Linked DNA regions of Homo sapiens: region 1 is linked to region 2. Evidence: fine-mapped expression QTL. A gene starts in region 2. The other region holds a variant in brackets. All regions are shown on one strand. Distances are from middle to middle.

Region 1 (15,798 bases), 66 kb after region 2:
ATTTAAATGTAGTTTTAGAGAATTATATGATTGAATTTTAGTTAACTTAAAAGGTTGTTTTAAAAGTTATTATTGGCTGGCCACAGTGGCTCATGCTTTTAATCCCAGCACTTTGGGAGGCCAAGACGAGAGGATTGCTTTGAGCCCAGAAATCTGAGACCAGCCTGGGCAACAGAGTGAGACCCTGTCTCTTAAAAAAAAAAAAATGCTGGGAGCATTTTGCATGCCTGAGTGCCTGAGGTCCCAGTTACTCCACAGACTGAGGTGGGAGGATCTTGAGTCCAGGAGGTTGAGGCTGCAGTGAGCCATGATCATACCACTGCACCCCAGCCTGGGTGACAGTAAGACACTGTCTCAGGAAAAAAAAAAAAAAAGTAGCTATGAAATGATGAAGGGCCAGTAACTGTTCTGAGTGTTTTATGTGATGATTCATTTAATTATTTAAGAAATTCTAAGAGGTAGGTGCTGTATTACCCCCTTTTTGCAGGTGAAGAAACTGGTAAACAACAGTTTAGTAATTTCCCAAGGTCAGATAGTGGAACCAGACTTGAACCTAGACAGTTTGGTTTCAGATCTTATGTGCTTCATTACTGTGCTGTGGGGCTCTCAAGGCAGGCATTTCCTAAATGTATTCAAACTAATTTGGTAGATAAGACTACAAATTGGATACCATGATTTAAAAAGTAAAGGTAGGTAGTGAGACTCTCATTCCCTTGCACCTATGTATCTTTAGGAAGGTATCTTTTTCAGTTTTGATAGCCATTAAAACCACATATCCAAATAACTGAACATCACAGACTATCAAATTGCTGTTTTAAAATCTAAAGCCTTTACAAAAATACTCAATCTCATTGCTCTCACTTAAGACTAATAATTTTTCATGAAAATAATAGTGTGTAATAAATAAGACAAACATCTAAAATGTGCATTTTCTTAATTGCATTCCTTTACATTTTTAATATACATAGTATGTATAATTTATAAATGTGTAAGGGATGTGCGCTCAAAATGGTCTTAGTAGTAGGTATATAAAAAATACTTGCGGTGGGATGTTTGTTAAGGTTTGGAGAAGAAGGCATTAGAGAAAGCTCTTTGAAAGCAAGAATGAGATTGTATTCACTAAGCAATCAAAAAATCAATGATAAGACCTCGAGTAGGGTGGCAACTTTTAAAATTTCTTCTCCCTAATTTAAACCTACCTTTGATTTTCAAAACCAGCTGAGATAACACAGCATAGATTTCAGCACTAAAGCAATGTTTTTTTGTTTTTTAAGAAATTGAGCATTCACAAACAAGAATATAGAGAAAATCATCCCAGAAAACCTTTTGCATGAAGGCTCTACTCTTGAAAGATAATTTTTAGGTCTTAGGACCTTGAATGAAAGTTAATATTAAAAATCAAGAAAATTGAAGGAAAAGTTTCAAAATTATTAAAAAGATTGAAAGTCAGCTTATTCTGGAGAAAGAGTAGTATTTTCAACCTTTTAATTTTTCTTTAATGGGATTGATGAAAGTAAATAAAAGAAGACTAATGGCAGGCCTCAGAGAATTGATTATAATATTACTGTTGCTTTATATTCAGAAGATGAGCAAGTCATGTTGGACAGAAGTGTGAGCCTGACTTCCAGTAGTCTACAAAATAGAGACTCCCTCTAGTTTTTTAGCCTATCCTATTTGCTTCTCATATTTTTTATAGATAGGTCAATCCTCATTATCATAATATTTCTGGTATACTTGGAGATGATCTCTTTTGCTTTCATCTCCCTGCTCGGTGGAAGTTGTTCAATTCCCCTGTTGCCTATTCCAAAATATGGAGATTGTATCTTCTCTTCAATTGATATAACCAGATTTGTTGGTCGTTAGCTTGATTAGATTGTAGTACAAATACAATTTTAAAGACAGATTTATACTGGATACTGGGTAAATTAATCTTAGTAACATTCAGTTGTACTTAACCCCTGGGTAGGGTTCATTGAAGTGTATCTGTAGTTACATTTATGATCATTGATATCAGTACGCTTTAATCACATACCTCTTAAGCTTAAGCGCCTCTTTTTCTGAAACCAGTGCTTGTCTCCTACTAGCAGTGTAGATATGAGAAGTCATTGTCCTCACTAGGTCTCAGGTCCTCAGCTGGAGAGGGGTTGGATCTCACAAGCCTCTTCAAAAAGTTGGTAACTCCTGTTTCAGTGGGGCAGAGGGATCTTATTTGTTTAATCTCTGTGGAAAAAAAGAAACATATTCAGACAATTAGGAGATTGAACATAGCAGAGCTTTGTTTTATCCCCTCAAATTATTGGCTCTGCCTAGTGTCTGTCTTCCCTATGAACTTATCTGGTTAGGTCCTTTATTTGCAATGATTGTGACACATAATGACATGATTATACAATTTACCTCAAAGATTAAACACCTCCTTTGAAAAGCTAGAGTAGGAGAGGTAAATATAATGAATCACTATGAACCCATCAACCTAGCTTGAACAATTACCAATATTTTCCTTCTCTTCCACTTATCCTTTTTTTTTTTTTTTTTTTACCTGGAAAAGGAAATCCTAGTCATCATGGCATTTTGGCCATAAATGGGACACGTTTAATTACATGTCTCAAAGTGGCAGGAACGTTTTAAAAAATATGATCACCTAATGATCACACCTAACAAAGTCAACAATTTCTTAATATCATCCAATGCAGTGGTATTGGATTGATTCAAGTATCTTCTTTTGTCTCAAAGATGACTTTTTTTTTTTTTTGGAGACAGAGTCTCACTGTGTCGCCCAGGCTGGAGTGCAATGGCGGCACCATCTCGGCTCACTGCAACCTCAGCCTCCCGTGTTCCAGCGATTCTCCTGTCTCAGCCTCCCGAGTAGCTGGGATTACAGGAGTAAAACGCCCGGCTAGTTTTTGTATTTTTAGTAGAGACGGGGTTTCACCATGTTGGCCAGGCTGGTCTTGAGCTCCTGACCTTAATCCACCCACCTCGGCCTCCCAAAGTGCTGGGATTACAGGCTTGAGCCACTGCGCCCAGCCAAAGATGACTTTTTATAGTTGGTTTGTAAATCAGGATCTAAGTAAACTCCAGCATTTACATTTGCAATTTGATTGTTGTGTCTCTTGAGTCCTTTTCAACCTTTTTTCAAGTCATCAATTTGTGGAGAAACTAGGTCATCTGTCCTAGAGACTATTCCCATTTCAAACTTGGCCTTTTCCTTCTTTGTGGTATTGTCTCTTTCATTGCCTGACTGTTGACTGTCTTGTAAATTAGTAGTTACACGTAGAGACTTGATTAAAGTTTAGTGATTTTGCTTAAGGCAAGAATACTTCATAGGAGGTAAGATATATTAAAAGACACACAATATTCAGTTGTTCACTTGAGCAATGCTGAAATCGCTGGGGTGTTTAGGTCTGTTCACTCTGTTTTAAACATCCCCATCAACTTTTAACCTAATGCTTTGAGCATCCATTGATAATTATTGCTTAATCCATTATTTACAACCATTTCTTCTGATTTTATTCACTGGACTTATTTTATAAACAGAAACTTCCTTCATCAACTGTTTAGTGCCCCTGAAATATGGTTCTTATAAGAAAGGCAAGATGAATCTTGAATGTTTTTCCTTTTATATATTAGTTTGCAATTGTCAATGGAGACTAAAGAGGGCTGCTTTTTAAAAAAATGTCATTATGTGTATATACACACACACACACATATGTATCTTTTTTTGTGGAGAAAGTCTCATTCTGTCGCCCAAGCCCGAGTACAGTGGTACCATCTTGGCTCACTGCAACCTCTGCCTCTACCACCCCAGCTTCCTGAGTAGCTGGGATTATAGGTGCGTGCCACCACACCCGGCTAATTTTTGTAATTTCAGTTAGAGACAGGGTTTCACCATGTTGGCCAGGCTAGTCTTAAACTCCTGACCGCAACTGATCCACCTGCCTTGGCCTCCCAAAGTGCTGGGATTACAGGCATGAGCCATTGTACCCAGCCTAAAATGTCATTTTAAATTTATGAATTTTTGTATAGTTGGTGTGTTTTGGTCCATTGCAGTAATCCTTTTGTATTAAAGTTGACACTTATATTTAAGATATCCCAGGCTAATCTTGCACATTGTACATTTCTTTTTTTTTTTTTATGCTTTAAGTTTTAGGGTACATGTGCACAATGTGCAGGTTAGCTACATATGTATACATGTGCCATGCTGGTGTGCTGCACCCATTAACTCCTCATTTAGCATTAGGTATATCTCCTAATGCTATCCCTCCCCTCTCCCCCCACCCCACAACAGTCCTCAGAGTGTGATGTTCCCCTTCCTTTGTCCATGTGTTCTCATTGTTCAATTCCCATCTATGAGTAAGAACATGCGGTGTTTGGTTTTTTGTCCTTGCGATAGTTTCCTGAGAATGATGATTTCCAATTTCATCCATGTCCCTACAAAGGACATGAACTCATCATTTTTTATGGCTGCATAGTATTCCATGGTGTATATGTGCCACATTTTCTTAATCCAGTCTATCATTGTTGGACATTTGGGTTGGTTCCAAGTCTTTGCTATTGTGAATAGTGCCGCAATAAACATATGTGTGCATGTGTCTTTATAGCAGCATGATTTGTAGTCCTTTGGGTATATACCCAGTAATGGGATGGCTGGGTCAAATGGTATTTCTAGTTCTAGATCCCTGAGGAATCACCACACTGACTTCCACAATGGTTGAACTAGTTTACAGTCCCACCAACAGTGTAAAAGTGTTCCTATTTCTCCACATCCTCTCCAGCACCTGTTGTTTCCTGACTTTTTAATGATTGCCATTCCAACTGGTGTGAGATGGTATCTCATTGTGGTTTTGATTTGCATTTCTCTGATGGCCAGTGATGATGAGCATTTTTTCATGTGTCTTTTGGCTGCATAAATGTCTTCTTTTGAGAAGGCACATTGTACATTTCTTATCGCAGATCTTGTATCAGCCATATCTTCAAGGTGTCCGAGTTCTTTTGGATGGGAAAAGGGTGTTTAGAGAACACAATCTGGGTATAGGAGAAACTTGTTGCTGCCACACCTTTTCAGTGGACAGAATTTGAAAACACGTACACACAAACATGCATGCATGCACACAGACATACATTTTCAGAGTTATAAGTTTATGTTGATATTTCTAACTGAAGTTTACAAGGCTTTTATTTTTCTGATTTTTATTATAGCATCTTTTTTTCCTTTACATTAAAAATTTTGGTTCCTAAGGGTATTAACATAATTCCTTGTTTGCTTTGTCCTATGATATAGCTACAATAGTTTCAAAATAACAATATCAATAAATTTGTTTTTTTTGTTTGTTTGTTTTTGAGACAGAGTCTCACTTTGTCATCCAAGCCGGAGTGCAGTGGTGCGATCTTGGCTCACTGCAGCCTCCGCCTCCCAGGTTCAAGCGATTCTCATACCTCAGCCTCCTGAGTAGTTGGAATCACAGGCATGTGTCATCATGCCTAGCTAATTTTTGTATTTTTAGTAGAGATGGGGTTTCACCATGTTGATCAAGTTGGTCTCGAACTTCTAACCTCAAGTGATCCGCCTGCCTCGGCCTCCCAAAGTGCTGGGATTACAGGTGTGAGCCACTGCGTCTGGCCAGTAGATTTTTTGTTGTTGCTGTTTTTGTTTTTTAAAATGATTAGACTATATCTCATTAGGCATGTATGGTAAACATTCTTTAAGTCACCTGAAATAATTAATTTCTCTTTATTTCTACCATTAAATCCATATACATTTAGGTTTTGTTTATTTTTGTTTTTAATTTTAGACATTTCTTTTTTATTTTAGAAAAGATAGGGGGTACAAAGTAAATGTTTTATAACAACATTCTTTCAGAGAAGTCTCATTTTTATCCATCTCTCCATTATTTTTCCTCTTCTCCTATAAACATTTTTGTTAGCTTTTTGTTTATCCTTCCTCATTTTTTTAAAAAAAATAAATGGTCTATGGACATACATTTGATATCACCCAATCTTAAACATTTTTCTCTGCCTAGCCTTTTTAACCTAATACTGTATATACTTGATTTCACCCCATAGTAGAAATATGAGAATTATCCTCATTCCTTTTTTATAGTTTCATAGTGCTCCCCAAATCTTCATGACTGACTTTTAGCTGTTTTATAGCTTTTAGAGCCAGTGTTTATTAATGGAAGGGAAAAGGAAGGCAATACATATTTATGAAACTGTGTGTCATTTACTTTATAAAGTAGGTTTATTTCCCCGCCCGCCCCCTCCCCCGTCTCGCCCCAATTACTAGAGTGGAGAGGAGTAGAGTTCAGTAAGATGTAGTGACATACCCCAATGACATGGCTGGTAAGAGAGAAATTCATAGTTAAGGATTTGATGTCTTTCCAATACATCATGAATACTGTGACTTGGCATTTCAGTGGTTGCTAGACTGTCATACTGGTGACTTTTTCATGTAACGTTTCAGGGGATCTTGTTTTTTTTATTTTTTGTTTTTGTGTGTTTTAATTTGGATGTACCTAAGAACCTGATAGAAAACTTTACTTTTGTGATTTCCAAAGAATTTTTGAGAGTTGTATTTTAAAATGTATAATATAATGCAGTCAGTGTTATAGTAACAGTAGTAACCGATTGTCATCTCTTTCTGTTCTCAACCATATACCGGGAATTTCTCTCTTGAAAATGTGTTGCCCTAAATTTAACAAAACTTTTTTTTTTCTGTTGCAGTTTGGGAATACCTGCTACTGCAATTCAGTTCTTCAAGCACTTTATTTTTGTCGTCCATTTCGGGAAAAAGTTCTTGCGTATAAGAGTCAACCTAGGAAAAAGGAGAGCCTTCTTACATGCTTAGCAGATCTCTTCCATAGCATAGCCACTCAGAAGAAAAAGGTTGGAGTAATACCCCCTAAGAAGTTCATCACAAGATTACGGAAAGAAAATGGTAATTCTACTTCCCACTGTATTAATGACATACTAGGAAGGTTAAATATAGTGTGCCATAATTCCAGCACTTACTGAGCATCATCTGTATGCCTGATAACATGTTAGCTGTTGAAGAAACAAGGATGACACGCCTTTCTTCAAAGAGGCACTCGTTTAGTGAAGGAGATAGTCTTACAGTAATTAATACAAGATACGGTTAATGTTTGCATTGCGTTATACAGTGATAAAATTCTGTGTGGCAGCAAATGAGAAATCACAGTTTCTCTTTTTGCTTGCTTGGCTTTTCTGTCAAGAATGAAGGGTTTTTGTTTCTTTTTTTTTGCATGCTTATGCATTTGTTTTCATAATGCTTTCATGTGTGTTAACTCATTGGATCCTTGCAGTAGCCTTAGATAGAGAGCATGTCATTTCCCCCATTTTAGCCGTGAAAAATCAAAACCTAAAAAAGGCTTGCCAGGAGCCACACTCCGGGGAAGGAGCTAGAAAAGACCTTTTGGCTTAGGGTAGATAAGTTTTAATCCCCCAACCCCTTTTTAAAATAGTTACTGAGTAAGCCCCACCTCCCTTTTCTTTTTTGAAATATTGTTCATTTAATTTTCACATGCCAATAAGTTGGACATTATCACCCTATGAAATAACTGAGGCTCAGAGAGGTTAATTCGTCCAAGGTCCCACAGAGTTAGTAAGTGGTGGAGCTGGTATACAAACTTACTTCTCCCTGATATGTAAGCCCAGTGTTCTATCTAATGTGGGACACTGCCTCAAAAATTCAAATGGAATTTAGATAACATGTAGAATTCTGGCTTTTGTTTAATGTAGGCATTTTAATCATTGTAGAAAGAAAATTGAATGGCATTTTTAGTTGATTTGTTACCTATTAAGTAGACGCTCACAAGCAGGATTTGGGAAGTCATTAAGATGGATTATTAAATACCCTATTGCGTAATCCTGCCTTTAAATTAGTCAGTTGACACTGTACACAGTGAATTGAGGTAAGCCTGGATCATATCTAGTTCGCTGAAATATAAGATGACCCAGAAATAGGCTATAGGCTATTATTCTTGAATTTGATAC[G/A]TTTGTTGAAGATTTGTTCATTTTCCCCACATACACATGTAGAATAATTTGATTAATTGCTCATAAAAATACATCTTGTTTCCCCTAATGAAAGCTAAACGTATGTACTTTATTAGATTATAGATCTGTTTATCTTGTTTTTTTAGAAAATCAAATATAACCTTAATGCTCAAATGTGGATTGAGCAGTTAAGTCTTCTCAGTCTTTTTGTGTGTGTCTGTACAAAACTTTAAAAGTTTTGTCCTTGTGGAAAATTTATGTATTTGGTAATTGAACATGGCACCCTTTCTCAGTGACTTTATTAGTATTTTAAAAATGTTCAGTGACTGGACACGGTGGCTCACACCTATAATCCCAGCACTTTGGGAGGCCAAGGTAGGTGGACTGCTTGAGCCCAAGAGTTTGAGACTAGCCTCAGCAGCAAAGCAAGACCTTGTCTCACAAAAAATTTTAAAAATTAATCGGATGTGGTGGTGCACATCTGTAGTCCCAGCTACTTGGAAGGCTAAGGTGGCAGGATCGCTTGAGCCCAGGAGGTTGAAGCTGCAGTGAGCCCTGATTGCGCCACTCTCCAGCTTGGGTAACAGAGCAAGACCCTGTCTCTAAAAAAAAAGAGTTCAGAAGTATGCAGCTCATACAGAGCATACATTATTTCCCTTTTCATTTAATAGTACATTTCTCTTGGCCTTATTAACCTATCACATGGGCTCTTTATACAATGATGTTATCTTAGTTAGATTGACCCTCATGCTGAACAGAGGTAAAATACAGTTACATACTTATGGCTTTATATGTTTGTTTGTCAAACCTGGGGTATTTTTACAGTGTTCGTTATTTTTTCCAAATGGGCTTTTTTTCTTTTTTCATCTCTTTCTCTCTCTGTCTCTCTCTCTTTTTTTTTTTTTTTTTGGTAGAGATGGGGTCTCATTATGTTGCCCAGACTAGTCTTGAACTCCTGGCCTCAAATGACCCACCTCAGTCTCCCAAAGTGTTGGATTACAGGCATGAGCCACTGTGTCTGGCCTTATTATTATTATTATTATTATTTTTTTTTTTGATAGTTCAATAGTTACTAATTCTTTTTGTATTTAGGCAGATTGAATTGGTAACACAATAGAGTTCTTAAATACTTCTTTGAAAGAGACTGATTCTAGAATAAATATTCTAAGCCCATCTTCTCATAAGTTTTGCTTCATTTTTCTAAACTTCAGAAATAATGCTTAATAGAAAAGCCATTTTTTTAATAGAAAAGCATTTTTATTATTTGATGTTGCTGACATTTGCAAATATGTTTTGAAATATATTTTTGGCTTTTGAATTTTCCCTTGAGAATTGTGTAGAGAAGAATATACAAATCAAAGAGGATTTAATATATTATTCATTGCATATCTTTCCTTCTGAGATTTTGTTTGTTTTAAATCTTTGGAAAGTATGTTACTCATTTCAGTATTTCCACTGACTTTCACTGGTAGATGGTTCTTACTAAATTAATTTCCTGCCATACTATGTTAAAAATTTTATTCTCAATAGATATTAGCCCCATATTGTTTTAACCACCATTGCTTTATGTTACTAATCTTTTTGATGGTCCTGGAAAGAACTGATTTTAATTTCTATTTATTAATGAATTTTTGTTTTTACAGTTTTAACTCATGTTACCTAATCATAGCATAAGAGGACTGTTGCACAGTGCTCCTGCATAGAGTACAGCAACAGTGGCTCCATGCATGTTACCTGCTGATGGGATGGATGCTAGCTGAGTGTTTGAGTAGACTAATCATGATAGATATATTTCCTGTTGTGTGCCAGACACTGTTTAGGAACTGATGATACAGAAATATGCCTTCAGGTACCTGACACCCTCGTGGGGAAGCAGACAGCCATCAATTGTGTGATGTAATGTGTCACTGTCACGAAAAAAAGAAGACTGGGAAAGGGGACAGAGGATGAGGGAGTTGCTAGTTCATATGTCAGTCATTGGGAAATGTCCCTGATTAGGTAATGTTAGATCAGAAATTTGAAGACATCATTTTAAGATCTGAGGCAAAAATGTTACCATCAGTAGGAAGAAAGTGCAGGTTGCCTGAGTGCTTGAAGGATGGAAAGAAAATTAGCATGGCAAGAGTGGAATAAGATGAAGATAAAGTCAGAAGAACAGGGGCCTAAAGCTTGGGTTTTATTTGGAAAGCCATGGGAAACCACGAGAGGGTTCTGAGCAGGTGGGTGATACGTTCTGATTTGTTTGAGAAGACCCTTTGGCTGCTGGGTGGGCCTGGGCAGCATGAGAGTAGAGGCAGGAGACCAGCCTGGAGGCTGTTGCAGTACCCAGGTAGGAAATGGAGTCCTCTCTTTACAGGTACTGCCTGTGGGTGATCTACTATTATTTTGGAAGAAATACAACATAGGATGGTGATCTGATTGTGTTAGCTAGAGTTGACCCTCAACTGGACTGTTTGGGATCATTTTAGGTGGGCCTGAGGGCCACATCAGCTGGCATCTGTAGTTGTGTGCTCTGACTCACTGAACCTTAGCAGTGTCAGTCATTTCAGTTATTGTTTGGGGGCAGATCTACTTTTCTGTCATCATCTTAGTTGTTTCAATCCCTATTGTCCATTCATTCATTCATTCATTCATTCATTCATTAAAAAATGGGAAATACATCTCATTATGTGGCAGGCACGGTTGTCAGTCCTAGGGATGAGATAGAAAGGGTCCTTGTTCTTAAGGAACCTGCATGGACAAGCAGCGTTTCATGTGCCGTGGAGAGATACAAAAACAGATAAATTTAAGTCTTGGTCTCCCTCAAGTGAGGAAATTTTAGTTGTTCACAAATAATACCTGTTAAATATATTTGAGTAAATAATTTCTTATGTTTATTTCAAACAATTCTTTTTCTCCAAAAGAGCATAAATGGTATTTTGTGTAATGAGAGCTTATAGCTATTTCTGAATTATGAGGAGAACATAACCTATTTTTAAGCAGTGTTTTTCATTTTTTTTTGCATTATTGTTGCAGCTATATCAGGACTATAGTAGTTTATAATCATACATTTATTTAATAATGAAATTGTCTGTCTCTCCCACTAGACTGTCAGTTCCATGACGGAGGGAACCCATTTGTTTTTGCTCACCATTGTATTCCCAGCACATAATCCAGTTCCTGGCACATAGTAGGTGCTTACTAAATATTTATTGAATGAGTGAATGAATGAATGAAATTGTTTAACTTCCAAAGCAAGTTTGAAGTCCACCTTTCCCATCATGCTACTTAGCAAAGAAGAAAGCAAACCATAAGAAAACCAGGGTTTTAAAAATTAAATATAATACAGTTCACAGGGATTGTCCTGAGGTCATTCATCAGTGTTATTTTGATGTTTATACAGTCCTGGTTGACGCTTTTAAAACTATAATGGCTGCTTTCACATACAGCAAAATTCTGGCATATTCAGTATACTCTAAGGAAAATGGACTACAAATAATCTTAGAAATATTTCAACAAAAGTTTAAAGATTATTTTTTTGGTTTACTTTGCCTCTCATTTCCAGAGCATTCAAGTCATTGGAGGTATTTTTGTGAATATGAAATCATTGCTCTGTGTTAAAAGAGCATCCAGAAAAAGATGTACATTTTTAAAAAGCAAAAACATTTGCACATTTTTGCTTAAAAAGTAATTATTTTGAAAAACATGTATATGCTAAAATTCTTTTCAACAGGGAGAAATTAGGCTACTTCAGATTGTGGCATCAAGCCAATATGTAGTTAGCCGCTGTAGGGAATTATTCATCTCTAACCTTAACTAGGTCCTCAGCAGTGTTTATAAAATCTTTTTACTAGTTCTCCCTGATTATTCTTCTTTTTAGATTCCTCTAGGACTTTTCCAGTTGGTTTCCAACTTTTCTTCAGCCCCTCAACTCAACTTTAGCATAATTATCTTCCACTCCTTGCCTTAGTGGACCTGTTTGAGGTGGGTGGTTCCAGATTTGTGACCCGGAAATGGGTGGGTGAGTGAGAGATAAAGGTTCTTGAATTGTACGGGATTGAGGTGCATGCACGTCAGGAAGCTGCCTAGACACTGACATGTCAAGGTTGGTGCAGGAGGCAAAGTGGAGAGAGAAACTGAATCAGGCCATCAGTGGATGAGGAGGAGGGAGATGACCTCAGAGAGAGGAGGGTTGAGGGTCATAGTATGGCTGTATCTTGGGCACTTTTGTGATTGAGAGCAAGTAGCAGTAGGAAACTAGAAAATGCCAAAGGTTGATAAGGCGAGGGAGTTTGTTTAGAACAGAATGGAGGACCTAGAATGAGCAACTTAGAAAGGGTTGGGAACAAAGAAAATCCCAAGGATGAGAAAGGAAATAAGGTGCAATAAGCAAATGAGAGTAGTAGAGGATAGGAGATTGAGGCTGAGAGGGGAAATGGTTATTATTTTCAGGGACGGAGGATTATTGCATTGAAGGGCAAGGTTAGATAATTTGCTTCAGTTAGCTTAGCTGTGGTCTAGACTTTTCCAATTGGTGGAACCACGCAAGGTTCTATGCATGACTTGGCCCGGCCTCGGAGGGATGGAGTGGACTGCTGAGAAGATTTTTGAGTTGCAGGCTGTCTCAGTGTTGAGAGAGGTTGCATAGACTTCTACTCTGAGCAGGGAGAGGGGAATGGTGTCCCAGTGCTTTAGATCTACTATCTCTTGTGGACAAAAACCCACACACAGTGTACCAAATTCAAGATTAGTTGTTAAGTCCATGTAGGCTAGTACGGAGCTCTTAGAACTCATGACTTTTATTGTTTTTAAACATAACATGGGGATTTTGCTAAAGGCTAATGGGTCCCTCAGGCTAAACTTACAGCAGAGAAGTGAACTGTGGCTTCAGTTGCATTCTTAATATTATTGTATTTGATTTGAGACCCAAATTTGTGGAATGGATTTGGATATATGAAAATAACTAAATAATGAACGTGAAAAAAAATTATTGTGAATTTTACCATGTAATGCAAGAGATATCAGGGAAAATTCCTAGGGAGAAAGATTCAGGGTCTATAAATTAAACTTGTCTATTTGCAGTGTGAAACTGAAGGAAAGGAGACTTAGTGGGTTAAGTGAAGGGAGGTGACTTGAACTAGGTAGATTTAAATGGAAATGGAACAGACTAGACATGCAGGAAATGAACTTTAAAAATTGAAAGGGTTTGGGAAGTAATTGTTTATGAAGAATATGCAATAGACAGGCAGATTGCTTGAGCCTAGGAGTTCAAGATCAGCCTGGACAACATAGCGAGACCCCCATCTCTTAAAAAAATAAAGGAATGTGTAACAGGCAGTGACAGGGAGCGAGGAAGTGGACTTTTTGTATGGAAAGCTCTATGTTATTTTTAAGCATGCAAATAATACATGCATACATTCTTACAATAACATTTCAGTACCAAACAAACCTAGAAGTTTCCCTGAGTGCTCTCTGCTTCCTCCCCAGCTCCTCAATCTCGTCTTCCTTTGAAATACCTTGATGCTACCAAAAACCCTTTTCTATGCACTTAAATATATATGTCCAAATAGGAAGCCACAGTTACATTTTATGGGAACTATTTTTAGTGGAGATGGGGTTTCACCATGTTGGTCAGGCTGGTCTTGAACTCCTGACCTCAGGTGATCTGCCCCCCTCAGACTCACAAAGTGCTGGGATTACAGACATGAGCCACTGCTTCCAGCCGGTTGTTTGTTTTTCATGAGTGGGATCCACATGTGTTCAGCATCCTTGTTTCACTTTCTGTTTTGGAAGTTTTGCCATGTTAATTCAATGGAACTGTTTCCATTTTAACCGTTGCCCAGCATTCCCTAACAAAATTATAGCATAATTTAAATAAATCATTCTCCTGTTGATAAACATTTAGGATATTTTCAGACTTCTGCTGTTATAAATAAGCAGCCGTATTTATGCTTGTTTTGGTACATGCACAGATACTTACCTGGCATCGATACCTGGGAGAACTAGGTTGCATTATTTTAAATCTGTTACCAAAATTGCCTTTACAACGTGCCATACCAGTTTATACTCCCAGCAGCAACAGTTGAGAATGTCCATTTCTCCATACTCAAGCTAACACTGGATGGAAACTAAGTCAATTTTTATTTTGCCAAAGTGATGGGCAAAATGATATTTTGTCATTGTTTTAATTGTTATTTCCCAGTCCCTTGTCATGTATTATTTAGGCATTTGTATTTCTACTCTGAATTGGCTATTTTCCTTTGCCAGTTTTTAAAATTTTTTTTCTTGTTTTGTAAAGGGTTTTTTTTTAAATATTCTGTATATTAAACCTTTACATAGTCTGGATATTAATATGCAAATAATTATCCTTGTTCGTCACTTGTCTTCATTTATGTTGACTTTGCCATACAGAAGTTCATAGTTTTTACATAGTCAGTCTTTGATGTGTTTTGTATTCTGTTCAGTAGCAACAACAATTATATAGGTTGAGCATCCGTAATCCAGAAATCTGAAACTTTTTGAGCTGCATGATGCCACATGGGGTGGCTGAGGTAGTAACAACTTTACTTTCTGATGGTTCAGTGTACACAAATTTACTTCCCTGCACAAAGTTTTTAAAAATACTATATGAAGTTGCACTCCATCCTGGGCAACAAGAGCAAAACTCCATCTCAAAAAAAAAAAAAAAAAAGTACTATATAAAGTTACCTCCAGGCTATAAGGTGTATATGAAACAAATGAATTTCATGTTTAGATTTGAGTCACATCCCCAAAATATCTCATTATGTGTATGAAAATATTCTCAAATCTGAAGCAGTCTGAAGTCCCAACCACTGCTGGTCCCAAGCATTTTAGATAAAGGATATTCAACATGTAGTGATATTGCCAATATTGTTACTGTGGTTGTTGTTGAACAGAATACAAAACCTATTGTTGTATTCTAAGCACTTTTAATCTTCCTCCCAGCCTTGTGAGGTACAGGTACTGCTGTGAGCCCCATTTTTCAGATGAGGAATTATGGAACAGGGAGCTTGAATAAGTTGCCTATGCCACGCGTGCAGTTAGAAGTAGAACCATAGCACCAACCCAGACAGCCTTGCTCTAGCAGCTGTGCCCTCCTACCCCCATAAAAAGCTTCACTCATTCCCTTTCTGTTTTTACAATGACTTTGCAAAGAAAGATGGTATTCTGTTTTGTTGTTGTTGTTTTTGAGATGGAGTTTTGCTCTTGTTGCCCAGGCTGGAGTGCAATGGCGCAATCTCGGCTCACTGCAACCTCTACCTCCCGGGTTCAAGCGATTCTTCTGCCTCAGCTTCCCAAGTAGCTGGGATTACAGGCATGTGCCACCATGCCCAGTGAATTTTTTGTATTTAGTAGAGACGGACTTTCACCATGTTGGCCAGGCTGGTCTCAAACTCTTTACCTCAGGTGATCCACCTGCCTTGGCCTCCCAGAGTGCTGGATTATAGGCATGAGCCACTGCGCTTGGCCTGCTTTTTTTTTTTTTTTAAACTTACTATGGGATTGAACATTTTCTCATGTTTTTTAGCCTTTTGATTGTTTTTTTCTTATAAATTGATTGCCATTTATAAGATTGTCCAGTTTGGTTTTCTTTTATATGAGATTTGCTTTTATATGTTGAAAATGTTAATAATTTTCAGGTTTCACTTTTTTTAAAACTTTTTTAAAGATTTCTAATACATAGAACTTAATTTTATGTAGTCATATCTGTATCTCTTCTAAAATGTAATTGTTAATTTGTTTTATCTTAGACTTTCCCTAAATTTTTTTCTAAATTTGTATGCATTCATT
Region 2 (15,798 bases):
CTTTATAAACTTTGACTTTCCCATATTCATTATTTTATTGTCTATTTCCTGTTTCCCAGGAACAATTAACAATAGAATCCTTAAGATGCAAAACTCCTTGCTGTTTACCAGCAACAGAAGAGAGGAAGAAGTGGCTCTGGGGGAATTGCGTGCCAGTCTGCGGCAGGTTGGCTGGAGAAGCAGCCCTGGTTGGAGCTTTGGAGAGACACATGTGCATTTACTTGTTACCTGGAAGACCTTTTAAAAAAAATTCTCGTAAATCTGTCATTTGTGTATCCTCAAGGTTTGTGGCAGAAAGCAGATATATCTGCTCCTGTGTGTAATTGTTGTTAAAAAACACAAAAAGGAAATAAAAGTGCACAACATACCTAGCAGACTTGACCAGAGGGAATTGGGAAAGGCCAAAGTAAATTATTCTAAAAAATAAGCAAGCAAACCAGAAAAGGTTAAGATGGAGAGGAGCTTAGAGGAGCAAGTGCTCTTCCCATGCTGGGAAAAAGGCAGCGACAGAACCGCCTAGTGGGCAGGTGAGGGCACTGATCACGTGATAGACTGGGGCCCACTGCATCTCTTTTCTCTTTGGGTCTTGAGGATGGAGAGGCAGGAACATGAAAACAGTGAGAAATTTTGAGGTTCACTTCCCTTCTTCCACCTCTCACTTCCCCCATAACCTCTTCCTTTTGATAGTGCTGGAAGAACAACCCAAGGCCAGCCCTCTTGAAGCAGGCAAATAGATGCTTGTCCTTTACTTCATGTATAAAGAGATTGTTTTCTTTCTTTACTAAGACAGTCAGAGCCAATGAAAGTGGAAGATAAGTACCTCGAGAGAGCCCTAAGGAGGGAGCATGGGGGTTCAAGTGTATGGTCTACTTAGGCAGAGAGGAATCAGAGTTAAACTAGGCTCAAAATACATTTTTATTTTGAGACAGCCTTGCTCTGTTGCTCAGGCTGGAGTGCAATGGTGTGATCTTGGCTCACTGCAACCTCTGCCTTCCGGGTTCAAGTGATTCTCCTGCCTCAGCCTTCTGAGTAGCTGGGATTACAGGCGCGTGCCACCATGCCCGGCTAATTTTTGTATTTTTTAGTAGAGATGGGGTTTCACCATATTGGTCATGCTGGTCTCGAACTCCTGACCTCGTGATCTGCCAGCCTCGGCCTCCCAAAGTGCTGGGATTACAGGTGTGAACCAGTGGGCCTGGCCAATACATTACTTTTAAAAAGAAAAAAAAATGTTAACTGTGCCCTAGTAATTTAAAAATAATGTCACATAAATATGTCTTTTAAGTCTTAAAAATACTCCATTTACTGAAATTTTGAAATAGTTGTATATTCGCATGTGTAACTAAAAAAGTATACAGTAAAAATTCCCTCCTCCACCTTCTCCCCTAGTTCCTACTTCCTCATTCCAGGAAATCACCGTTAACAGTTTCTTGTGTATATGACAGGAGTTTCTTCATGCTAAATATATTTTGGAATTTTTTATTTGGTTTAACATTGCTGTGCTTAGCTATTTTAATAGAGTTTTTTTTTTTTTTTTTAAAGAAGAAGTAGAAACTGTGTGTATTTCATCAGCTGAGGATTCAGCTTGAACATTTCAGGAAACCCCAACGTGGCACATTACCTCTCCCTAGGTACCCTAGGTAGGCTGATGAAGGTCAAGTGGCAAGGAGGCCCCGTGGGTGCTAAAATGCAAATCTGAATGTGAAAGTGACAGCAAAATGACAAGGTAGAGCCAAAGGTTTCCCATACAAACTCCAACAAATGGTTAAACCCTGGTAAAACATATAGAAAAACTACTCTGAAAAATTTGAGAAGTAGGTAGTAGAGAGAAGGCAAGATGAAGGAAGATGTATCCAAAGGAAAAACTCTAAGGGCACAAATCAAGAAAATCAGAGTTGGGAATGGGGAAGTTAGACCTAGATGCCGGAGGCTTCTCGGAGTCCAGAGGATGTTTCCTTTTCTTGTGCTATTTTTTTTCCCCTGATAAACTTTCTCATTAGAGCTGAGCAAATGCTGAAAAGAAAATGGGAAACTCCAACCCAAAGAAGAGATTCAGAGAAGCAGGCAGAATATCTGTTAGTGCTTGAGGAGCCTTGAAATGTATCGTGTTGCTTGGAGGTCAGCACTGTTCGAGACCAGCCTGGCCAACATGGTGAAACCCTGTCTCTACTAAAAATACAAAATTAGCCGGGTGTGGTGGCTCATGCCTGTAATCCCAAAATTAATCCGTCTCAAAAAAAAAAAGAAAGAAAAGAAAAAAAGAAAAAGAAAAGAAAGGAAAGGCCTGAAAAGTCGCTGATTTGTTGATTCAAGCCAATAAAAAATTTACTGTTTTGATTGACATCTACTGCTTGATGACTGGGTGATATTAATGAATGCCACTAAGACGACTGATTCCTTCAACTATTAAGAGGTTGGGTAAAGAAGCGGAGAGACCACAGGTTTTAGAGTCAGAGCCTTTGTGTGGATCCTGGCCCTGTATGTGCTGGTTAGTGCAATGATGAATGTCATATTCCCCTGTGTGTAAAATAAGTATGAAATGATGGATCTGTAAGGTCATCGTAAGGGTTACATTGGAATATGTATCTGAAGTACTAAGCAGGTGGCTGGCACATAGCAGAGGCTCATTAAATCTGGAGGAGCAAGCTGGCAGCCCGAGGGCTGTATTTGCCCACCCCAACTTTTTTTTTTTTTAAATTTTTTTTTTTTTGAGACGGAGTCTCGCTCGGTTGCCCAGGCTGGAGTGCAGTGGCGCGACCTTGGCTCACTGCAAGCTCTGCCATCCAGGTTCACGCCATTCTCCTGCCTCAGCCTCCCGAGTAGCTGGGACTACAGGCGCCCGCCACCATGCCCGGCTAATTTTTTGTATTTTTTAGTAGAGAAGGGGTTTCACCGGGTTAGCCAGGATGGTCTTGATGTCCTGACCTCGTGATCTGCCTGCCTCGGCCTCCCAAAGTGCTGGGATTACAGGCATGAGCCACTGCGCACGGCCCCCCAACTTTTAAAATGTTGACTTTGAATGTCCATTCTAAACTTTCCATTTTGTGTTGAGCGCCAGGCACTATTTGAAACATGTTTTATCGTTGTAACATAATTATTACCCTTATTTTCCAGATGAGGAAAGTGAAACAAAGAAATATCGATTTGAGTATTTTTTTTTTGTAGCTTAAACCTTCATGCAAGTCCGAAAGGAGTCGTGCCTCTCAACCTCATCCTGTCAGAATCAAAATAAAATACTTTTACAAAGCTAGTGTAGTGGAGTGGACACAGGTGTGGCTCCTGGAGCTAGGTTCAAACCTTGGTTCCATTGCTTACTAGTTAGTTGTGCAACCCTGGAAAAGTTATCTCTGTGCCTTGGTTTCCTTATCTAAACGTGGGGATAATCGTAACACCTGCTTCATTAGGTTGTTGCAAGGATTAGATAAAATGTTTACACCCCTTCTTGGACCACTCCCCATCACTTTCTTTCCCAACCCATCACAAGCAAAGCTTCACGAATCATTTATGTGAGCTGGTATAAACCCACATGCCTTCAGGGAGAAAAGAGGTAGCAGAACTATATAATAAAGTGACTTGTGTTAAACTGTTGAACAGAATGAGTAAAGGAAAATTTGAGGCAGACTGTAAGGAACTGGAGAGTGTAGGATTGTGTAACAGTATGCAAATGAAAACATTATAAAATGCTGTGCTGACTAAATGGATTAAGGTTGGACATAGTTCATTTACTTGCCTGGTCCCTGAGGCATCTGGGCATATTTTGTAGTTTGCATATTCAAGAAGGCCGAAAAGGAGTCAGTTGTACACAAACTCATCTTTTGCTAGGCACAGGGAAGCTCTTTGTAAAGCTGATTACACAGCTGTGTAAAGCTGTGTTCTAAAGCCAGATTACCCTTTCCAAGCTCAGGGTGCAAAAGTGTGGAGTTTCAGCCAAACTTATTCTCCAACTGCATTACATATGGTAAAGAACACTCAGTACAACACCTAGCACATAGATTCAAGAATGTCTCTTTTATGTTTGTGTCTCTCCAATCGACCATAGGCTGTGGAGACAAGGCATTGTGAGGCTCTGTGATTAGGTTTCATGACTTTACCTGTGAATTTAGATGGCTCCAACATCAACTAGACATGACTCCAGATAATTCTATCAGAAATCCATTTTACTTTTTAAAATTTAATTTAATTTAATTTTTGAGACGGAATCTTACTCTGTCGCCCAAGCTGGAGTGCAGTAGCATGATCTCGGCTCACTGGTTTTTCCCAGGTTCATGCGACTCTCCTGCCTCAGCCTCCCTAGTAGCTTGGATTACAGGTGCTCGCCACCATGCCCAACTAATTTTTGTAGTTTTAGTAGAGATGGGCTTTCTCCATGTTGGCCAGGTTGGTCTCAAACTCCTGACCTCAAGTGATCCGCCCGCCTTGGCCTCCCAAAGTGCTGGGATTACAACAGGCGAGAGCCACTGTGCTGTATTTTTGAGATACTGTTTCAGTCTGTCGCTCAGGCTACAGTGCAGTGGTTCAATCATGGCTCACTGCAACCTGGATATCTCGGGCTTAAGTTATCCTCTTACTTCGCCTCACAAGTAGCTGGGACTATAGGTATGCGCCACCATGCACCACGTATTTATTTTTATTTTTAGTAGAGACAAGGTCTCACTATGTTGCCCAGGCTGGTCTTGAACTCCCTGGTCTCAAGGAAGTTGGAAGCCATCCTCCTGCCTCAGCCTCCCAAAGTGCTGGGATTACAGGCCTGATCCACTGTGCCCAGCCTAGAAATTTATTTATTTATTTATTTTTGAGAGAGTCTCACTCTGTCACCCAGGCTGGGGTGCAATGGCACAATCCCAGTTCACTGCAATCTCCACCTCCAGGATCCAATCTATTCTTATGCCTCAGCCTCCTGAGTAGCTGGGATTACAGGCGTACACTGCTACGCCTGGCTAATTTTTGTATTTTAGTAGAGACGGGATTTCACCACGTTGGCCAGGCTGGTCTCCAACTCCTGACCTCAAGTGATCCACCTGCCTCGGCCTCCCAAAGTGCTGGAATTACAGGTGTGAGCCACCATACTCAGCCTAGAAATTCATTTTAGAAAGGCCTTGTTCTTATATAAACTTATATGTAAAGCCAGTGGCTTTTGTTCCTGTGACATGTTCGGATTAATGGACAAGGAGGCATATGGGTGGTTAGCGGGATGGAGGCAGGTCTAAAATTCTGGCACATCAGACCTGTTTGCTGGAATAGAACAGCAAGTGGGAAGGACAGGATGACCACAGCTATTTATCAGGACGGGCACACAGATGGGCATGGTGACACTCGGACAAGGCCCAGGTAGGCCCTAGAGGTCTAAGATGTAGAAACCCTTGTCCAAACAGGGGGTAGAAAAGAGCAAGAAAGAATTCAGGTGGGTGATGCTTGCAAGTATAGAGAGGAAAGCCCCTGGCTGGGGTATCAGGGCTCTTGGCTTCCATGGAGGCAGGCGCTTGGAGATCCAGTCCGGCTACCATGGGGCTTGGCTATATTCAATCTGCATTCCCCCCCCAAGCAAGCTTATAATGGAATCACTATGGAAACAGTATTCATGTACCAGAAGTCTATTTTTCACTTAAATTTTGTTTGAATGCTTTTTGTTTTTGAGTGCTTTGAACCCTTGAGGTGAGGCATTTCTGATTTTACAGCTCTGCCTGAATTCAGATCCTCAACCCCACTGAATTAGGGGAACCCAGAAAAGTACCCCATCACGAGTTCAATCAGAAAATATCACAAGCTTTCTAACATAATAATTTATGAAGTTATTCTACTCACTTGAACTACTTTCTCAAATAGGAAAAAATAAAGCTGAGCTGCCAGGCATGAAGAACAGGGTGCAAATATGAATTTTATAAAAGGAGAAAGAGGAACTACCCATGCCAGTAGCCAGCACTGCCTAAGGATTTCTCACAGGGCATTTTTCTTGCTTGCGGGCTTCCTGTCTCTGGTAATATCATCATCACTGCTGGCTTGAGATCCTCCCTATTTTGCAGCTCAATGTGCAGATATTTAGAAGCCTATTATAAATTTATCGCCAACAGGCCAACAGGTTTCGCTCCTCTCCTTCCCCCATTACTTATCTTTCTTCTTAATTCAAAGAGTTAAACATGTGTAATTTGTTCTTTGCCTCTTCATTTTTGTTTAATTATTTTGTCTTTTTCTAAGTTGTGTTTGACTCCGGTGATTCATCCAATATACGTAAAAAGAAACAAACCAAGTGCTTGGGACGCATACCCGGGTTATCTTAACTGTGCAGAGCAGGTTTCCTCCCACTCCGCCCGTAGTTACCCAGATCATCGCCTCCGTTTTCTGTTTAGGCAGCGGGGGCTCGCCGTCCCCTCGCCCGCGGTGGGTGTCGCAGCTGGTCCCCTCCAGGGTTCTCCCAGATCGCCGCCGCCACCCCCGCGCCTCCCCGCCGCACCCCTTCCTACGCGGGGGTCTCTGGGTCCCCGGCTCTAGGACCGCAGGGACGCGGGCAGGAGGTGGCGCCCGCCTTCGGTCCTGCCCTCTGCCGCGCGCGGGGTGGGGACGGACCGGAGTTCCCCGGCTCGCGCACAAGGGCCGCGGAGGGGTTGCCGAGGGGTGGGCGGGGCTGCGCCGCCTGGCCGCGCCGCTGCCTGGCAGGCCGGGCATTAGGGCCTCGGCGGAGCCCGCTCCCCTGTGCGCTGGGCGGGGTGGGCGGAGGGCGGCTTCGCGTGCAGGCGCGGGCCCGGAGGCAGCGGCTGCGCCCTGCGCCGGGGCGGAGCCGGGGGCGGGCCGGCGGCCGGCAGGCGGGGGCTGGGGCCCGAGGCCGGGAGTGCCTGAGCGCCGGCGGCGACGACGGCAGCGGCGGCCCAGCGGGCTCGGTGGTTGGGTCCGCGGCGGCTCGGGGTCCGCCCGCGGGCTGCGGTGCGAGCGGGCGGCCCGGCTCCCCTCCTCCCCCGCCCGCCGCCGCCGCTGTGATTGGGTGGAAGATGGCGCTGGCCGGATGGAAATCCTAATGACAGTCTCCAAATTCGCCTCCATCTGTACCATGGTAGGTGGCGGCGAGCGGGCGGCCGGGGCTGCCGGGACCTCTCGGGCGGGCGGGCGGCGCTGGACCCGCCTCTCCCAGTGGCCGCTCGCGGGGCCTAGCGCCGGGGCGGGCGGGCGGGCTGGGCGGCCCGGGCGGCCCGGGCGGGGGCGGTTGGACGGCGCGCAGGCGGGGAGCGCGGGGGTGAGCGGCCCAGGCGGCTGGGGAGGGGGCGCCGCCTGGTGGGCCAGGGCGGCGCGAGGGTAGCGGTGAGTGGGCGACCGTGCCAGACGCGGCGTCGGGCGGGCACCGGCCTCCGGGAGTCCCCGGCTGAACTGCTGGGGTCCGCTCGGGACGCGGGGACGAGGGCCGAGGCGCGCCCGGCCTGTGCCGGGGTGAGGGGTGGGCGCGCGCGAGCCAGAGCGCGGCCCCGGGCCGGGGTCGTCGGGGAGGGGGCGCGGAGCCGCGCGGGCTCCATTTCCTTCTGGTCGCGCGCCGAGCGGGAGGGGTCCCCGGGAGGGGTGGGGGTCGGCGGGCAGGAAGGAAGGGTCTCGGCCGGGGCGGGCAGCGCTCATTCCCGCCTGGGAGAGGACGGAAGTCAAGTGCAGATTTCCTCGCGCCGCTGGCTGGGCCGAGTCCCCGACCCCGCGCTGGGGGAAAGGGGCGTGTGTGAAGGTGGAAACTTTAAATAAGTACTGTTGAAATTCTCTCCATTTTCTCCTCTGAGAGGCACGAGCTCTCCCGTTTCCAGCCGTGTGTCCAGGTGGCAGTCTTGTCTCTGGGAATGCACGTTAATCTTGAAAAGCAGCATTAGCTTTCCTGTCATTTGTTTACTTCAGCCCACCAGACACATCTGTATGTGGCTGGAGCTAGGTCTGTCTGTGCGGGGACCGCCTGCCAAGGCGATGGTATTTGTTTTCCTAGGGCGTTTAAATAGACTGTAAGGGAAAAGTGCTAATGCCCGCTGGAAGTCCCGAATTAAGCAAAACGTGGGCGCGTTTAAAACTTGGTGTTTTGTGCGTGGCCAGAAGGACCACAGTTTTCCACATGATGAGACAAATTCGTTTCATTAGTTCCTCATGAGCTTATATGTAGGGATCATAATTTATGAGTCATCACCGAAAAAAGTTGTTCTTTGCAACGTGGGCCTAGTGGTTGTTATTAGAGACTTCTGAAATCTTGTGTTTCATGCCTCACTGGCCCTATTTATGCAACTGATTTCATATAGGAGATCCCCAAGAAATTTTCCATCTAAGGGTGGTACATTGTATATATTTTTCTTTAAGGAGTGGTGAATCAGATCTGAAAGATGCCTTAAAAAGCAGATTCTCTACTACACGCTGAGGAACAGTACAAAAAATGACTGAAATCAGGTGGACATAAAATCGACAGTATTAAAGAAATCATATTGAAGGATGAATCATTGAAGACTCCATTTCCCAACTGGATGATTGTTCTTTCTCACAGTTTACATTTTAGGAAAGCATTTGTATTAAATGGACTATATTAAAATGATTTTGGAGAATTGTTTGGGCTAATTATTTTTAGATACGCCAATTATTATCTTAGTCAATTTCAAAAGGAATGCGATAATTAGGTCTTTTACAGTGACAATTTTGCCACATGGCTGAGCTACACACATTGTATGGGTCATAGTTCATTGTCAAAGACTAGATTTCAGGAGTGGTGTGATACTCTTTACCGACTGTTCATTCACTCAAGTACTGTATATCAAGTATACACTTAGCAGCCACTAAGTGCTAGAGGCGACGCTGAGTACTGGGGATGCAGTATTGGTCAGGGCAGCCCCTGTTTTCTTGGTGTTTACATTCTTGCTCATGGACACAAACAGTATTCAGGTAAACAATAAATGTATGCTGTAATCAGATTAGGACAGTGAGACACAGGGATTTGCCAGGGTCACACACTTAGTAAGTGGGATTCTGATCCCAAGGATGTCAAATCAGAAGCTCTTTCTAGGGCTTCCATCCAGATACATTAATTACATGTGGGGCGTGTGTATTGTTGGCAAATACAGAAAATGCCTGGCCAAATGAGATCGTTCCAAAGGTACTATTAAAATTGGGTGTGTCTGTATTCATATTTGAATACATTCGAATGTACCCCCAAATAGTGCTGAATATCTCAAAGTAATTTGCAGTCTTATTCTTTAAAGAAAATTGCCATTTGTCCTCTGAGAATCACAAAATTGAAAAGCAAAGATACCTCTTTGGCTTTGTAGGTGCTGTTTTGCTAGGCTTGGAACGCTCCTCCCTGCCACACCCCGTATCCTTCTTGTCTGGCGAGTGTGTGTGCCTGTCTCTTAAGCAGGGAGCCTTACTTGAATAATCCTACCCCTGTCCAACCCGACCCTCCATCCCCTTCATACAGTTTCATGGCATTTTTGTAATCTCAGTAGCACTTATCATACTTACTGTGCAGTAAATTTTTCTTTGAACTCTTACTCAATTGTGAGGGCCTTGAAGGGGAAGGATTATCATTTACTTCTGCAGTTTGATCTGGAGTACCAAGTTCTGCATTCAGTATAAAAGTTTTCCAAAGTCCTTCCTGCCTCCTCCTGGTATGCCGGGTGAAGCAGGGATGATGTGGCTGTGTGTGTGTGGAATGGTGGAGAGAAGATGGGCTGGACTTAAACAGAACACTTCTCAGAATCAGCAGCTGTGAAAACATTTAGGATGAGTTGAAATTTTATTCTATAAGTACTGAAGTGTACATAATTTTTTCATTTGTCAAAATAACGTACCTGGGCAAATCTGCAATACCTTAATTGGGTTAAGTAACTGTTAAAAACAATTCTCTTCAGCTGTGTCTTATTTTAGATCACTAGTGTTGTGCTTACATGTGAAAATTAGTAAAACTTGTTTTTCATAAGTTAGTATTATAGCCTGAACCAAATGAGTGATTATGTTTAGATTGCAGTGAGTACATTTTCAAGGGTACCTCTTGAAATACCTGTTTTTAATTTGTCTATGAAATAATACATTTTCAGTATCACATAGTGTTTATTTTGCCTTTGAAGTAGTTTCAGACTTCAGGGCCTGGCACGGAGTACCTGCCTACCTGATATTTAATATTATACTTAATAAGTGTGAAATAACGGGAAAAGTGACAGAATACATGTAGAGAGGCTGTGTTTTGCAGTTGAGGTGGCTAATCCGGGTGGTCCGTCATGGGCATGCAGTAGTGGTCAGGACAGCCCCTGCTTTGGAGCTGGCACTACTTACTGTTAGCTCCATAAATGTTAGCTCTGCCTCTGATCATTATTGTCTCTTCCTGTTTGGGTTGTAGGAGTCATGGTTAGGAAGGCGTTGTTGGGAGGGGGACCAGACAACGGAGAAGTTGTTGGTGCAGGAGGTGGGTAGAGTTAGATCATGGGGTGGCACTGGCCTGGCTGCTTGCCCACCCTCGGTTACAAGGGCATGAGATTAGATCCATTAGAACATGGTGGTAATGAGGCCAAAGCTGGTAAAGGTAGGTGCTAGGAGAGTCCCACGGGCTTTTCTTCTGAGAAAGCCTGTGCCTAGCACAGCACCCTGAGCATGGTAAACTTTACTTGCTGAAGAAAGGCACAGGTGAAACTGGCTGTCTTTTCTTTTTTGTTTGCTCTGTTTTAATAACACGATTTTTAAAAACATAAATTAGAAAGGACATACATGGAAAATGTTTGCCTTTTCTTACTGCTCAGTCTCACTGGGATCCAGGTAAGGGTATGTGTGGTCAGTGCAATTTATCCTTACTACTGAAAAAAAGGAAAGCTGGGGCAAACCTCAGAGCCCATGCGTTGTTGGGAATGTGTGTGTGTGAAAGTCTCCTCTTCATATAACAAGAATATTATATTAAATAATGAAATTTCTTTTTCCTTCTCAAGAAATAGGGTGGATGTAGTTCTTTTATTAATAAAATATTTATTTGTAAATTAATATTTTATTAGTAAAATAGTACTTCTATGATAGGAGCATTCAAATGTGAGTTGCCATTGTTTTACTTATCTAATTTTGCTGTGTTAATTTAAGAAGGGAACAAAACTTAAGCTTCTTAAGCCTTTAAAAAAAATAAGAAAACCTCAAAAATAAGGAATCTTCTATTACATAAATGTTTGGTCAAAGGAATGTTTGAGCTTGGTGGAGAGAGAACATTTAGAAGAAGTATTAATAGAAGTTTTATTTAAGCCCACTCATCTTTTGAATTTGTCTAAAATACATTTTGGACATTAAAAATGATACATTCTCATAGAAAATCTGGAAAATATAAAAACTCCAAGAAAGCAAAAGGAAGGTCAATTTTTACCTCCCAGAGGATATGTTATTTATTTATTTATTTTATTTTTTTTTTGAGACGGAGTTTCACTCTTGTTGCCCAGGCTGGAGTGCAATGCTGCAATCTTGGCTCACCGCAACCTCCACCTCCCAGGTTCAAGTGATTCCCCTGCCTCAGCCTCCCGAGTAGCTGGGATTACAGGCATGTGCCACCACGCCCAGCTAATTTTTGTATTTTTAGTAGAGATGGGGTTTCTCCATGTTGGTCAGGCTGGCCAGAGCATATTTTATTTAACTTTTTAAAAAACTTGAGTTGTATTCCCTAGATATAGTTTTACACTGTTTACCCACGAATGATTATCATGTTATCATTATCATCATTCATGCCCATCCTAAAATTTGCCCAATTTTAGGATGAACATGAGTTTAATGTTATAAAATGATGAGGTGGTGAGATGAGCCCAATAAAGCATAGTGGTAGGGTACTAGGGCGTTGACAGGTTATATGTTTAATGATTATTAGAGGGTAAAGTGATATAGTTAGCAGAAATGGAATTTTATAAGAGGTGGTTTATTCTAATCTTAGGCACTTAGTTATCACAAAGATAAGACTTGTTATGATCTGAAATTTTTAATATGCTTGAAAACTCTAGTTTTAAATACCATATTCAATTATGTGGCATGTGTATAAATATTATGGTCTTATTTTATATCATATGGCTTTGCTTACCTTCTGGTGACTTTCTCTTTCCACCTTTTGCTAATAAGTGGCTAATAGGTCTCAAAGTAGGTTAATTATCTGCCCTACCATGATCCATGTTGGCCAGTTGCAGCGAGATGATGTCACATTTCTTGTTGCCTTATTTGATTCTAGACTTTTGACCAAGTCCCCCCAAACTGAGTCTGCCTCCTTTTTGTCATTTACCAAATTCCTTTCTTCCTGCCTTTAAACTCATATTTATTCTAGCTCTTCTGAAACTTTTATTGTCTCAGGAAGTATCTTTTAAGCATTTGTATACTTTGTATAATTCCTTTCCAGAAACCTTTTTAGATTTAAATAATCTAATTTTGTTTTGGTTTCTCTTTTAGCAGCTCTATTCCAGAAACTTAATATGGTATTTTGTTATGTATTTGACAGCATGGTATAATGAAAAGAGCAGTTGGACCAGAAGGTAAATTCTAGTCCAGATTTTGACATTTAGATGTGTATATATGGGAAAGTTTCTTAAAACTTCGAGTTAATTTTTCTCATCTGTGAAATAAAGGGATTGGACTAGATACTCTTTAATAGATATTCCTTATATGCTTGTCTCCTTCTAGGTCTAAAATTCTGATCCTTTAGTAGTTTATAAATGATTATTGGTATCATTTTCATCATTTTAGGAGCTCTTTTTTAAAAAATTATTATTATTTTTTTTGCTCTGTAGCCCATTTCTAGAACATCTTGGGAGTTCTAATTATGTTTTAGATAACATAAAAAGCATAGAATCAGACATAATTAAGCAAGAATTTCACTTAGTTCCCTAGTTTTTACAGTCTAAATACATTTTTCTTTCTTTAAAACTGGAGGTTACTGATACCACCATTTTCGTCACCAACAGCCTAATAATTCACAAAGCTATTTGCTAATTTTTGACACTTTTTTCTTTGCCAGTACCATTAAGGGATTTGAATTTTTTTGAGGTTCCATGTTTATTTCTTTAGTTATGAGTATGACCTTGGACAAGTTACTTCTCTGTACCTGTAAAGTGAGAGTAAAATAACATCTAGTTCATAGGGTTGTTGACTAGTACCTGGCCCATGGTAATCACTGTGTCATGTTGGCTGTTACTGCCCTTTAACATGATTTGCTCCCCTCCCTGTGGTAAAAAGTATTCATTGGCACTACTAATTAATCTGTTAGCTCAACATATACTAACCAAAATGGAAATTTGTTTTGTGAAATACAATTGTCAGTTCCTTTTCATTATAAGAAACGTTAGTTTATTAGTAGTATATACCCCTGAGAAAGCACTAATTTATTTTGAAATTGAGTGGATTAATTCATAATATGAAAGCTGAGAATGTAGATTGTCTTCTTTCTCTATTTTGAATAGTTCATAGAATAATTTATTTCTTTTATCTGGGAACAAAAATAACTGGTCTAATTTGTGACATTCTCAAACATATTTTACAAGTTTAGATAAGTTGAGAATGGCAAAAACCACAATTACTTTTGCAACAATCTAATACTTTTAGAAGAAAAATCTATCTTACCTTATTTTATACTAAAAAAAAAAAAAAGCACACCAGCTTTTTGTCATTACTAGAACAAGGTGTGTGCATTCAAGTTAGCTTCAGGACTTATTTTCTTTCAGATTTTTCTGTTTACTGAGGCCATATTATTATATTTAATTTCCTTATGCTCTATCCTTTAGGGAGCATAACAAGGGAATAACATCTCTTGTTGGCTTACATTGAACTTACCCACCTTGCTCTTAGATATCTTGTCTAAAACCTACAGTCCCAATCTCCTAGTCTAGAAGAGGGATATTTACATATCTACACCATACTTTAAAGGTGTTGGGAGAAAGTAGTAAGTGAAGAGTTGTATTATGAAGAGTTACACTTGCTGAACTGAAAACTCTCTATTGGAGTCCCAGTATTGTTGAAAAACTTACATATAACATTTGACCATTTGCTATCTTATGTGCAGAATTTGCTTTAGGAGGTTAGAGTGGCAGTTTATATACATTTATTTAGGAAGAAAAACTAGTAAGTCTTTGCTTTCTCACAGCAAAACTCGAAGACTTTTGTGATAGTGTAAACTATAAGAAATTTAATGTAGAGCACCACTGTGTGAGGTGGTATAGCCCTCTCTGTTCCTTGGCTTATGCTTTGCTGCTGCTTCTCTTTCAGAAGGACCATTAGCTTCTTCTAAACAGTATGTTATGTCTAAAGAAGAGATGTGTAAGCTTGCTTTATTTATCTGTAGTGAGCCACATGTCCAAAGCTACGTACCAATAAAAATTTATTTCCAACTGAAAACAAGAAGTAGATGTTTATTTCAGTGATAATGGACAGATGTTCTTAACTGAAATGCTTCATGGGTAGAGGAAGCATCCACACATTCTCTACTTGTAAAGGGTGGTTTAAATCATAATATCTTTCAGTAGAGTTAGAGTACTGTTGCCTTTGATTTTATTTTAGTGCTTTTTATTTTAGTGACCTACTAAGCCTCTACCTGATGCTAGTGATTTTTTTTTTTTTCCTTTTTGTAGGGATAAAGAGTGCTTTTTCTAAAGTATTTTGAGGAAGGATTCATGGAGACCTACATTATATCGTGCTGCATGTAGGTTCTGAGAACATGAAGACGACTGTGATAAACTCTGGTCTTATGGAACTTCCCATTCAGTGTGTCTTGAGTGGGTTATAGTTGTGCTGAGGAAGTAGTCCTCTTGACCCCTGGGAAGCCTGGAGGTATCTGGGTTGATAGGAGACCCTTAGCCAGTCCCTTTCTGGTGAGAGCAGACATACCTGTCTTACCTGTAGCTTCTTTTCTTTTTTTTTTTTCTTTTTTTTTTTTTTTTTAAGACAGGTCTTGCTCTATTGCTCAGGCTGTCTCCTACATTTAAACCATCCTCCTGCCTTGGCCTCCCAAGGTGCTGGGATGACAGGTGTGAGCCACTGCACCTGGCTATGTCTGTATTCTTGTGGGCTTTACATATACTATTTTCTCTGTGTGTCCTGATGAGAAGATTGAAAACCAGCTCTACTTACAGTATTGTAGAAGAGGATGGACGTATAAAACAAATGCATGCAATGAGATGTTTTTCTTATTGGTATAAGTAATGGTAATTATATGTGAAAGAGAAGGTGGTTTTGGGAGAGAGAAGAGGGCTTCAGGAAAAAGCTTCTTAGAAGAGAGTTGAACTTTGCAAAATGAATGGCCTTTATTATGTGGACATGGAGGGATGGGATACCAGATGTAAATAGATAATGTGTTACTCTTAGGCTCTGTAGGTGGTTTGGCGTGAAAGCGGGTCTTGTGAACAGTAAGGCTGGAGAGTAGGAAGGGGGCATATTTAAAGAAGTACCAGGAGTTTACCAAGTATTGATTCACATTAAAATGATTATTAAAGTGTGTGTTTAGCCTGAGGAAATGTAAGTCCAGAGGACAGTCATGAGGATATAAGAAACAATGGAGTTGGTAAAAATATGCTGGTAAATTGAATTACATTGATTTTTCAAAATTTGCTTGTATTTTTTTTAAGAAGAGAAAATGACAACAAAACAAGATGGATGGGGTACAAGGACAGTTCAGTGGGTTGTTAAAACTTGTTAAGGGCCTCCTTGTTTAAGAGCCAACTAAACAACCACTATTGGAAAATTTTGGATTGTATATACATGTTAAAAAATTAAGGATAAATACACACCCACACAGGGAGTGAATTTTCTTGCTTCCGTAGCAGCAGACATTTAAACGTTACCATTCAAACTCTGAGGGAAGGAAAATAGGAAAAA

The links.
Region 1: its variant is fine-mapped to the expression of USP12 in whole blood (INTERVAL, PIP 0.99).

The regions. Positions count from the first base shown.
Region 1 is chr13:27,096,864-27,112,661 of GRCh38, reverse strand. It overlaps USP12 (ubiquitin specific peptidase 12), which reads left to right. Exons shown (of 9, transcript NM_182488.4): 3 at 6,718-6,931. Among named protein-coding and RNA genes, the nearest start is that of USP12-AS1, 21 kb to the left of the region's middle. The variant G/A (reference allele first, on the strand shown) is at 8,008.
Region 2 is chr13:27,162,836-27,178,633 of GRCh38, reverse strand. It overlaps USP12 (ubiquitin specific peptidase 12), which reads left to right and starts at 6,823. Exons shown (of 9, transcript NM_182488.4): 1 at 6,823-7,042. The coding sequence starts at 6,995. USP12-AS1 (USP12 antisense RNA 1) reads right to left here. Exons shown (of 3, transcript NR_046547.1): 2 at 15,711-15,774; 3 at 9,499-9,697. It overlaps USP12-DT (USP12 divergent transcript), which reads right to left and starts at 6,375. Exons shown (of 2, transcript NR_046548.1): 1 at 6,262-6,375. RefSeq lists enhancers at 1-268, 6,047-6,236, 7,737-7,846 and silencers at 6,297-6,936, 7,077-7,126, 7,187-7,276, 7,347-7,416, 7,447-7,496.